Regions from separate parts of the Homo sapiens genome. Here region 1 is linked to region 2. Evidence: fine-mapped expression QTL. A gene starts in region 2. The other region holds a variant in brackets. All regions are shown on one strand. Distances are between the middles of the regions.

Region 1 (5,379 bases), 91 kb before region 2:
ATAGAAGTCTCCCAGAGGCTCCAACTGCCTAAAGCAGGATAAAGTAAACTGCAACTATATTAAAAGTAATGAAAATGTCATTTGAAGGACTAAGCTACTAAATGATTTAAGAACCATGTGGTTTGAGTGTCCCGTATCTGAAATGCTTGGGACCAGAAAGGTTTTGCATTTCAAACTGCTTTGGATTTTGGAATATTTTTGCATATACATAATGGGATATTACGGGAATGGGACCCAAGTCTAAACATAAAATTCATTTATGTTTCATATACACCTTTTATACACAGTCTGATGATAATTTTAGGTAATATTTTGAATAATTTTGTAAAATGAAATGAGGTGTGGAATTTTCCACTGGTGGCCTCATGTTGGCACTCAAATGTTTTGGATTTTGGTGCATTTTCAGACTTTGGATTAGGGATGCTCACCCTTTACTGATATTTTAAGATGAAGAAAGTCTCCTTCAAGGAATTGTTCAAAAAACTTTTTTTTAATTTTAATTTTTTGTTGTTGTTATTACATAGATAAGGGCTTCCTATGTTGCCCAGGCTGGTCTTAAAGCCCTGGCCTCGTCTCCTCATGCACCAGGACAATAGGCCTGAGCCACCGTTCCTCCCGGCAAAAAAACTTTTAACATATAGAGTAAAAACAACTTCCTTTTTATAGTTAAGCCTCTGACTAAAAAGGAGGTACAGACGGGGTATAACTAGTATTCAAAGAAGAATCTTTAAATTTTTATTTTAGAATCTGAAATGATTCTCTTCATGTTCTGGGACTTAAAAAATTATCCCACCTCATAAGTGCTTCTCTCTCTCTTTCCCTCACATTGAAAATTTCTACCTCATTAATTAAACTCTTTTTAACAAATTTTATAATTAAACTCTTTAGACCAGAAAGCAGTAAGGTAAAAACATAAATGCCTAATACCTGAATGTATAAATGTAGGTATGAAATTATGCAGTACAAATTAGAAAATTTATATTGCTTAAATTATCTTGACACTTATCAAAAAAAATTTATTCAAGAAAGCACTGTGGTAGTCACTGGGGATTCAAAGACAAAAAGATAAATCAAATTTGGCAGAAGCAACACGTTAATTCACACCAGTCAAAAAATATTTTCCTAAGAAATGTTATTTGGCAGTAAGACTATACTATATACTATAGACTACACTGTTATTTTGGCGATACGACTATACTATATACTATACGATTTATACAATGAAGCTTATATTCTAACACCTTTCCACTGGAAAATTTAAACGCCAAATAAAAACTTATTGGTATTCAAAAGATTTGGATACTGGACAGGTACGGTGGCTCACGCCTGTAATTCCAGCACTTTGGGAGGCTGAGGTGGGCAGATTGCTTGAGGTCAGGAGTTTGAGACCAGCCTGGCTAATGGGGTTAAACCTCGTCTCTACTAAAAATGCAAAAAAAATTAGCCAGGCATGGTGGCAGGCATCTGTAATCCCAGCTACTCAGGAGGCTGAGGCAGGAGAATTGCTTGAACCCAGAAGGCAGAGGTTACAGTGAGCCAAGATCACACCACTGCACTCCAGTCTGGGTGGGTGACAGAGTGAGACTCCATCTTAAAAAAAAAAAAAAAGATTTGGATACCAATAAAGCCATTCTCAACATAGTTACCAACATGGCAAAAATTTCAGATATGTAGCTACAGCTTATGTAGGAACAATACTAAGTTTGCTTTTTTAAGAAGATATTACAGTAGTTCAAGAAAACATTCCATTGCCCTTTGATTAGTAAGACAACAACCTCAAGCTAAACTTTATACCTAAGTTTAAATGCCATGGGCTGACCAGTACAAAGATATAAAATATATTCTCTGCTGTGTTCTGTTATAGATAGGCTTTTTTTAAAAAATCAATTACTTACCGACTTTGTTCTTTCCTTTGTTTTATTAACTGAATGAGTTCCTTGTCAAAATAATCTTCTTCCTCTTCCTCTCCTTTTCCATCATCTTCTCTTTCCTGGGCATCAACGTTATCTTTGTGCAACTGGCCAGAAATGTGCTTTGCATATGCAGAAAGACCCACTTCTGTGACCCCGCACACTCGGCACTCATGACTAATGTCCCTAGGGAAAGAGGGAGATGAGGGACATTCAATTCTCCCCACTGGCATGGCACACTCACCAGATCTGTTATTGTTTCCTCTGAAGGACACTGCACACTTTGGCACAGTGAAAAATTAGTG[C/T]TAATTAATTTCAATGCTCCTTTCATCACTTTTAATAAGTTTGTTTATAAGTTACTTTTGAAATGATTTTAAGATTCTTTTCCAGCAATCAAGAGGCAATAGACTTCAGATAAATGTCGTTTAGGAGGAGAAATCTTCTTGAATTGCTGTACTTAAAATCTTGTCAGAGGAAACATGGTGAAAGGGGAGGCAGGGCAGGGGGCTCAGAGCAAGCAGAAGTTGCTCTGGAGCACACCCATGGTGCCAGCTGCACTCAGAAGGCCTGGTGACAGCGCTTACATTTAATCTTTAGTCTAGAGCTTTCTTCCAGTGAAAGTTAAGGGGTGGAAACAAGAGTAGGTGGCGCAGCCAATCCCAAGTCGGTAACTAAATCGGAACAGCTGGAGCTCTGCCTGGAATGTGAGGATTCCGGACCCCAGGAGTAGTCCAGGCAAACTTTTTTGGTCTGGATGATACATGTGATCTACATTCTGCTTCAGAAGGGCTTATTTTAAAGGGAATGGAAAGCATTTCAGTTGTAGGAAGTTAACAGCTGTGCCAAGCAAATGTGTTTTCTCAAGTTTCAGAAAATGCTACAGTTGAGAGAGATGCAAAACCAGGTTTTTAGTTAAACTAGGCAGACTTTTTTGCTTTGTTTTGTTTTTTTACTTTACATACTTCATGCAAATCTCACTTAGCCAGTCTTCAGAAGCCAGTCTTGAATCAGTGTCCACAGCTGTAGCAGATCAGTAATTTAACTGCTTTTTAGCTTCTGGAAATCCCTTGACTGGGTCAGCTGACTATGCAGTCATTTATGAGAAACATCTGAACACCATAGTTACAAGACAGCAGTATCCATTCAACAATCCAAATTGGCTTAACTCTGTATCATGTGTCCTGGATTTAGACTAGTTATATTTTTGCACTTCCTATGCCAATCTATTAAAAAAAAAACCAACAACCCAAAAGGACATGCCGTCTTTGTCCAGACAGAACACATACACACACGTGCACCTCTGTTCCATCTTTCCCTCACAAATACCTAACTAGACATAGGCAGAATTTACATCAACCAGAAGAGACCCTCAAAACTGGGCACTTCATTTACTAGAGGACAGTTACTGTTACAGATCACCTGAATATTCATTCAAGGAAAAAAAAAAAAAAAAGGCCGGGCTTGGTGGGGCTCACGCCTGTAATCCCAGCACTTGGGGAGGCCAAGGCGGGCAGATCATGAGGTCAGCAGTTTGAGACCAGCCTGACCAAAATTGTGAAACCCTATCACTACTAAAAATACAAAAATTAGCCTGGTGTGGTGGTGTGCACCTGTATTCCCAGCTATTCGGGAGGCTGAGGCAGGAGAATCGCTTGAACCCAGGAGGCAAAGGTTGCAATGAGCCGAGATTACACCACTGCACTCCAGCCTGGGTGATAGAGCCAGACTCCATCTCAAAAAAACAAAAGAAAAAAAAAAACAACACCTTACCAAAAAACAGCTAAATTCTAGGTGTGCTGTTTTTTGGTAAGGTGTTTTCTTTTTTTTTTTAAATGAATATTCAGGTGACCTGTAACAGAAACTGTCTTCTAGTAAATACTTAGCATAGACACTCTTGTTTAGGGTGACAAAGTTTAAACACTCAAACAATGCCCAGTAAGTTTAAAAAAACAACACTGTTCCTTATTTTGTAAGGATCATGGAGAAGAGCTCAGAAAAACTGAGAAAATTTGCAAGTTTTCACTCTTTTTTGACTTTGTAACCTCAAATACTGACATTTTTAAGATTCATTTTAATGTGCTCTGACCAGGTTTCCTAAAAATATCAATACCTGATTACCCAGAATATCAATATTCTAATTCCACAGGTACTTAAATACATTATTTTTACTGAGGGTTTTCAACTGCACTTACTACATTTATACACTTAAAGAATAATCTTCGGCCAGGCGTGGTGGCTCACACCTGTAATTCCAGCACTTTGGGAGGCCGAGGCGGATGGATCACCTGAGGTCAGGAGTTTGAGACCACCCGGGCCAAACTGGTAAAACCCCGTCTCTACTAAAAATACAAAAATTAGACGGGCATGGTGGCGGGCACCTGTAATCCCAGCTACTCAAGAGGCTGAGGCAGGAGAATCGCTTGAACCCAGGAGGCAGAGGTTGTAGTAAGCTGAGATCGCACCACTGCACTCCAGCCTGGGCAACAGAGTGAGACTCCGTCTCAAAAAGAAAAGAAAAAAAGAAAAAAGAATAATCCTCAACTTTCTCCAGTTTACCAGGGATACCGATACTTTTCTCTCAAGCAATTAAATTGATGGTAGCTCATTCCAACTGAACGTTAATAACAAGCTGTTTCTCAAAGCAACACACAAAGAAGTTAATTATATAAATCTATCACAATGGGCAGCATCAGAACAGTCTGAGGACTATAACAAATCTACAATATCTCATTTACACTATAAACATTCCAATCAACTCAATTTTCCAGTTAGAAAATCTTTTTGTTGGCCAGGCGCAGTGGTTCAAGCCTGTAATCCCAGCACTTTGGGAGGCCGAGGTGGGTGGATCACGAGGTCAGGAGTTCGAGACCAGGCTGGCCAATACGGTGAAACCCCATCTCTACTAAAAAAAAATACAAAAATTAGCCAGGCATGGTGGCACACGCCTGTAATCCCAGCTACTCAGGAGGCTGAGGCAGGAGAATCGCTTGAACCTGGGAGGTGGAGGTTGCAGTGAGCCAAGATCACTCCACTGCACTCCAGCCTGGGTGACAGAGTGAGACTTGGCCTCAAAAAAAAAAAAAAAGAAAATATTTTTGTCTTAAAACTCTCTAAAACTATGGAAAATATCTTAGCCTACTTTTCTACCTAAAAGCTCATAGAATGCTAAACTGAATATTGCAGTACCAGAGACATCTTTCTATTGGGGACTTTAGTATAATCCCTAAAAAGTATTTTAAAATAAAATCCATGATTTTATCCTTACTTCTAAAATGCAGAGAATCTGTCTAATGCTCAAACTATCAAAACCCCTCGCTCTTAAAAGACACAACTAGAAAGCAATACTGACTTTCCAAAATATTAAGGAATGTCGTATAAAGTAGGCAGAACTTAACTGTTAAAAATAAACATCCATAATCGTAAACCCACACACCCTGCAACCCCCAAAGCACAAACATATGTTGGATTC
Region 2 (5,379 bases):
CTCAGTCCCTACTGCATTTAACTGTACTATCTATCCCTTCCTTAAAACCCCTTATTTTTGTCCTTTTTTGGTTTTTCTTCCTATCTTTTGGATTCTTCCTTACTTCTCTTGTTTTTATGGGCATTTTTCAAGTAGCTGTCTGTAATACTTCATATGTCATCTTCTCTCTAAACTTCTTCTAGAAAGCTCATTCATTAAAGTCCATCACTTTTGTTATGACCTCAAGATCTGTATCTATACTCTTACCTCTATTCTGCTCCCACGTTTCCAACTTTCAGTAAGATATTTCCATTTACAAGATTCACCACAGACAACTCAGCATGTCCATTCTCAATAGCACTACTGTTCCTTTAGGCCCTCAAGCTCAATACCAAGCAATTGTCTTTGACTCACCCCTTTTGCCATTTAAATACTAAAAGTCACCAAATTATTTGATTCTGCCCAGTATCATCTCAGACCATCACTTATTAGAAATCATGGGAACTTTAATAAGTTCAATAACTAGCAATGCAAGTTCTCAGACCTCATCCCAGCCCTACTGGATCAGAAACACTGAGGGTAGGGGGCTAGTGATCTCTTTAAACAAGCTTTTCTGGTTAATTCTGATGCATACTAAACTTAGAGAACCACTGAATAAAGGTACTGGCAGAGGTGAATGTGGAGCAAATCCTCAACTAATACTTGCTGCTTAATTGATTCAGTTTTTTTTTTCCCCCAAGAAGCTCTATAACATACAAGAATATCCACTTAAGGTAAAAAAACATGAGGCCAATTCCTCAAAGACAGACTGAATTTCATCATGATGTAAAATCACTACAATCTAGAAAAGTAATAACCACATGCAGCTTCTGGCCACTTTAATGGACCATGCAGATCTAGAAATACAGACACTAGAAAACTAAAGGCCATCCAGTCTCACAGTGTTTAATATTTCATCACTTGTGCCTTCATGCCTAGACAAGAATCTTTGGATTGGTTTTCCAGACAAATATTAATTGAAAGCTTCCAAAGTAATGGAAACAAATTTCAAATATTATAATTAAAGCTGTACAACAGTGAAATGGGCTATCTCCAGAAAGCCTATCACTTAATATTCTTCAGCAAAAGGAGACACACTTTGTAACAAAGATGTCAAAACCCCACACAAAACGAAAAACAAAACTGAATTACCTCTGACTCCCGACTCTGAGAACCTCAGTTTAGGCCTCATTTCCACATTATATCCCTGACATAGCTCCTGGCTAGCTGGTTAGGGGCATATATTTGAGGAGGATCTGAAGAAGTCTTCAAGATTTGTGAGACAGTAGTTTAACTTTTGAAATGATCTCTCCCTGTTACCTACCCCACCCTCCCCAAAACACCTACACAACTAACACATCCAGTGTCTCAACTAATTCCATGGCACTTTGGGCCTTGAAATTAGTTCAGCCTATAGAAGAAACCTCTCATTTAGCCTCTGATACTTAGCTCTATGATGGCAGTTTAGGAAACAAGAGGTTAACAGGTATCAGGAGACCTTAAAGCCACACATATGCTGTAGGAAAAAAAACCTTAAAGCTCTAGACCTGATTCTGGTTGAGGTTGAGTTCGATGACTTGCAGCTCTCCCACTGAGTCAGGTATACTTCGAATCTGGTTCTTAGAGAGATCCATCACATCCAGGTGCCGTAGGCTACAAAGTTGGGGAGGTAATGCTCCCAGTTGGTTCCCAGAGAGGCTCAGGGTCTTGAGGGCAGAGAGTTGCCCAAAGGTAGACGGCAGCTCTCTAAGGTGATTGTTGTTTAGGCTTAGCGTCTCTAGTTTTTTCAGATTGCATATCTCATCAGGCAGAACAGCTGGCAAAGAAAAATTTTTTTAAAACCTGAATGTGATAGAGCTGAAAACAACTTTGATGAAGTTTATAAAGACTATATGGCAGCCTGCTTCGCCTCTTGTTAATATATGTAAAACTCCCACATGTGCCATTTTTAGATATTGCATTTTACCAACATAGTCTTTAGAAGGTGAGGGTGCCATCAAAATGCCGGAGAGCATTTGTGTGTATAATGGGCTCCTTTTGTAAAGGGGCCCAAGGCACAATCCGACAGCAATTTTGTGATATTTGGAAGATCCTCCCCTTCTCATCCATCCCCCATTCCAAGTTAGGTAGCTTTGTTTACATTACATCCCCAAAATGTTCTTCTCTTTCAAGTCCAAATTAACCCAGTAACAATCATTATAACACCCAATCATTATAAGGCTTATTTTAGATGTAATTACAAGAAGTAGAAAGAAGGCTTCAAGGATTCCGGCATTCGCAACTTGAGCCCTCCTGCACGGTTTCATAACAAAAACAAAAATCAGCTTGTAAGAGAAAACCACCCCTGGTAACAGCTGATCACTAGCAAAAGCCTCCCTGGCGAGAGCCATACTCAGTTTGTTGTTGTTCAGGGAGAGGCTCTTCAGCAGAGTGAACTTTCCTATCAGCAAAGGCGGTAGGCTTTCGATCTTGTTGTTGGACAAGTCGATGGTCCTGAGATTGCTCGTCAGCTTCTGCAAGTCTGCGGGGAACTGGAGAAAGGAGTTCACAGCGTGGGGAATCCCGCACCGACTAAGTTCGCCGCCCCCGCCGTCCCTCTCCCTTTAAGTTCCCTGGTCGTGTCCCTCCCAGTCTCACCTCGGTCAGCCCTCGGTCCTTAAGCTGAAAGACACCAGTTTTCTGCGCCGTTTCCACATGAGCGCGGAGCGCACTGTTTCCCATCCTAGCGCCGCGGCTCAGGTCCCTGCGGGAAGGAAGCGCTGCTGTCACCGCCCAGTCCACCCGGTCGGCCTCCCGGCTGGGGCTCCTGCCCCAGCTCTCAACTCCCGCCGATCCCTGGCTCCTGGGGCCCGACCCAAGAGCGACAAGGAAGAAACGGAAGAACACACAGCCCGACCACCAAGCCCTGCCGCCTTTGCAGCTCTGCGGAGGCCAGGCGCCTCTGGGAGCCTACGGAAGATCAGGGAGCCCCGGACTCGCCTCCCACCGCTCAGCTGCCGTAAGGCTCCGCAGGTGAAGACCCAGGACCCGCAGTAGCCGGGATGCGCTCCCCGGCTTAGTCCCGGGCGGGAACGCCCTGTGACGTCATCGAGCCGCGCCGTGCGTTCGCCCTGCGATCCCGCTCACTCTTGGCGCCTTCGCGGAAGGTGCGTCCGAGCCATGGCCGCTGCCAACCCGTGGGACCCGGCGTCCGCGCCTAACGGCGCTGGGCTAGTGCTAGGCCACTTCATAGCTTCGGGGATGGTCAATCAGGTACGTGGGGGTGGCGGTGGTGTCATCAAGGGGGTGCCCAAGGTGGCAACAATATGGCTGTGAGTTGGTGCTGCTGGCTGTGGGAGTGGTGAGGGTCCTGGTTGGGGTCTGTACTAGAGTAATAAGAGCCCCTTCCAGGCAACAGCCGCGAACGTTCTGCCGTGGATGCTTGGAAAGCGGGGATCTGAGTAGATGGTGTTTAGGGTAGACTGTGTTTTGAGTGTCTGTAGGGTAAATTTGTCCCAGTCCAGTTTGTGGGAGATTAGACTGTTACCAGCCTTTTTTTCATCCAGTGATACTGCCTCTAGACTGTAGTGTAAGGGCGGGGATGGGAAATACGGGTCGTTCTGTCCCCTTGCGGAACAAGCATTTCCAACAACCCTCGTTTGTGGGAAGTGTTGAATCGTATTTGGGGCGGGAGGTGCTGGGTAGAGAAGAGCGCCAGAAGCTCTTTTTTGACATTTTTATTTTATTTTATTATTTATTTATTTATTTATATGAGACAGAGTCTCGCTCTAACGCCCAGGCTGGAGTGCAGTGGCGTGGTCTCGGCTCACTGCAACCTCCGCCTTCCTGGTTCAAGCGATTCTCCTGCCTCAGCCTCTGGAGTAGCTGGGACTACAGGCGCCCACCACCACACCCAGCTAATTTTTTTTTGTATGTTTAGTAGAGACGGGGTTTCACCTTGTAAGCCAGGATGGTCCCGATCTCCTGACCTCGTGATCCACCCGCCTCGGCCTCCCAAAGTGCTGGGATTACAGGCGTGAGCCACCGCGCCCGGCCTTGGCATCTTTAAAGGCAAAAAAAAAAAAAAAAAAAAAAAAGTATTGGCTAAAAAGATAAGACCTTGGAACGTGAATGGAGGAAGAGATTAATTTTGAGAAGGAGAGAAAAGAGACATTAACCCAAGGAGTCACGGAGTGGCAGTTTTAGGTTGGGCAAGAGGAGCATGTCGGAGGAAGGAGCCAACAGAGGGAGAAATTGAACATGTGAGGAAATAATGGAATGCAGTGACAGGAGGGCATGGGGCAAGTGGGATCAAGGGCATTGAGAAAAATGGGGAAATAAATTTTGATATATAGAGGAAGTTGAGAAATTTCACTAAAAAGAAAACAGAAAAGTTAAACTGATCTGTAAAAATCAGCACATATTAGCCGGCATGGTGGCGTACACCTGTAGTCCCAACTACTCCGCGGACCACATGGGTCCTGGAGGCTCAGATGGGAAGATGGCTTGAGCTTAAGAGATGGAGGTTGCAGTGAGATGCGATCGGGCCACTGCACTTAGCCTGGGCGACAGAGTGAGACCCTGTCTCAGGGAAAAAAAAAAAAAAAAAAGCACTACAAACATGATGGAAGATTTACGGAAAATACATAACTTTTTATAGTCAGAAGAGCCATTAGAGACTCTAATACCTTACAGTATTTTTTAATTTAAGAAACTAAGGCTTAGACCAAGAAACTTGCCCATGGTCACTAGACTGTTAAAGGAGAATTAGATCTTAGTACTCTCCCTTTTGACACATTGTATCCCCTCTCAAGATGAACTGTTATAAGAGGCTGTGATACTGTATTAAAAGATTTTAAGCTTTTGTTGAACACCCATTGTCTGGGTGATGGGGAGATTCAGGTGGTCCTAGTTGACTAACTTTACCAGGAGTGACCACAGCACTCTACAGTGTAATCCTTCCTCCCTTCTCTCCTGTGTTTTCTTTTTTTTTTGAGACGGAGTCTCGCTCTGTTGCCCAGGCTGGAGTGCAGTGGCACAGTCTTGGCTCACTGCAAGCTCCACCTCCTGGGTTCATGCCATTCTCCTGCCTCAGCCTCATGAGTAGCTGGGACTACAGGTGCTCACCACCTCACCCGGCTAATTTTTGTATTTTTAGTAGAAATGGGGTTTCACCATGTTAGCCAGGATGGTCTCGATCTCCTGACCTCGTGATCTGCCTGCCTCTGCCTCCCAAAGTGCTGGGATTACAGGCGTGAGCCACTGCACCCGGCCCTCTCCTGTATTTTCTTTTTCTTTTCTTTTCTTTTTTTTTTTTTTCTGAGACATAGTCTCCCTCTGTTGCCCAGGCTGGAGTGCAGTGGTGTGATCTTGGCTCACTGT

What was found. PIP is the estimated chance that this variant, and not a neighbour inherited with it, causes the effect.
Region 1: its variant is the best candidate, but not a certain one, in a credible set for the expression of HAUS2 in whole blood (INTERVAL, PIP 0.57).

The regions. Positions count from the first base shown.
Region 1 is chr15:42,455,063-42,460,441 of GRCh38, forward strand. It overlaps ZNF106 (zinc finger protein 106), which reads right to left. Exons shown (of 22, transcript NM_001366845.3): 4 at 1,896-2,096. Among named protein-coding and RNA genes, the nearest start is that of ZNF106, 33 kb to the right of the region's middle. RefSeq lists enhancers at 2,269-3,101, 3,102-3,933. The variant C/T (reference allele first, on the strand shown) is at 2,216.
Region 2 is chr15:42,545,696-42,551,074 of GRCh38, forward strand. It overlaps HAUS2 (HAUS augmin like complex subunit 2), which reads left to right and starts at 3,143. Exons shown (of 6, transcript NM_018097.3): 1 at 3,143-3,270. The coding sequence starts at 3,178. LRRC57 (leucine rich repeat containing 57) reads right to left here and starts at 3,098. Exons shown (of 6, transcript NM_153260.3): 1 at 2,998-3,098; 2 at 2,656-2,761; 3 at 2,411-2,549; 4 at 1,566-1,834. The coding sequence starts at 2,739. RefSeq lists an enhancer at 2,934-3,403.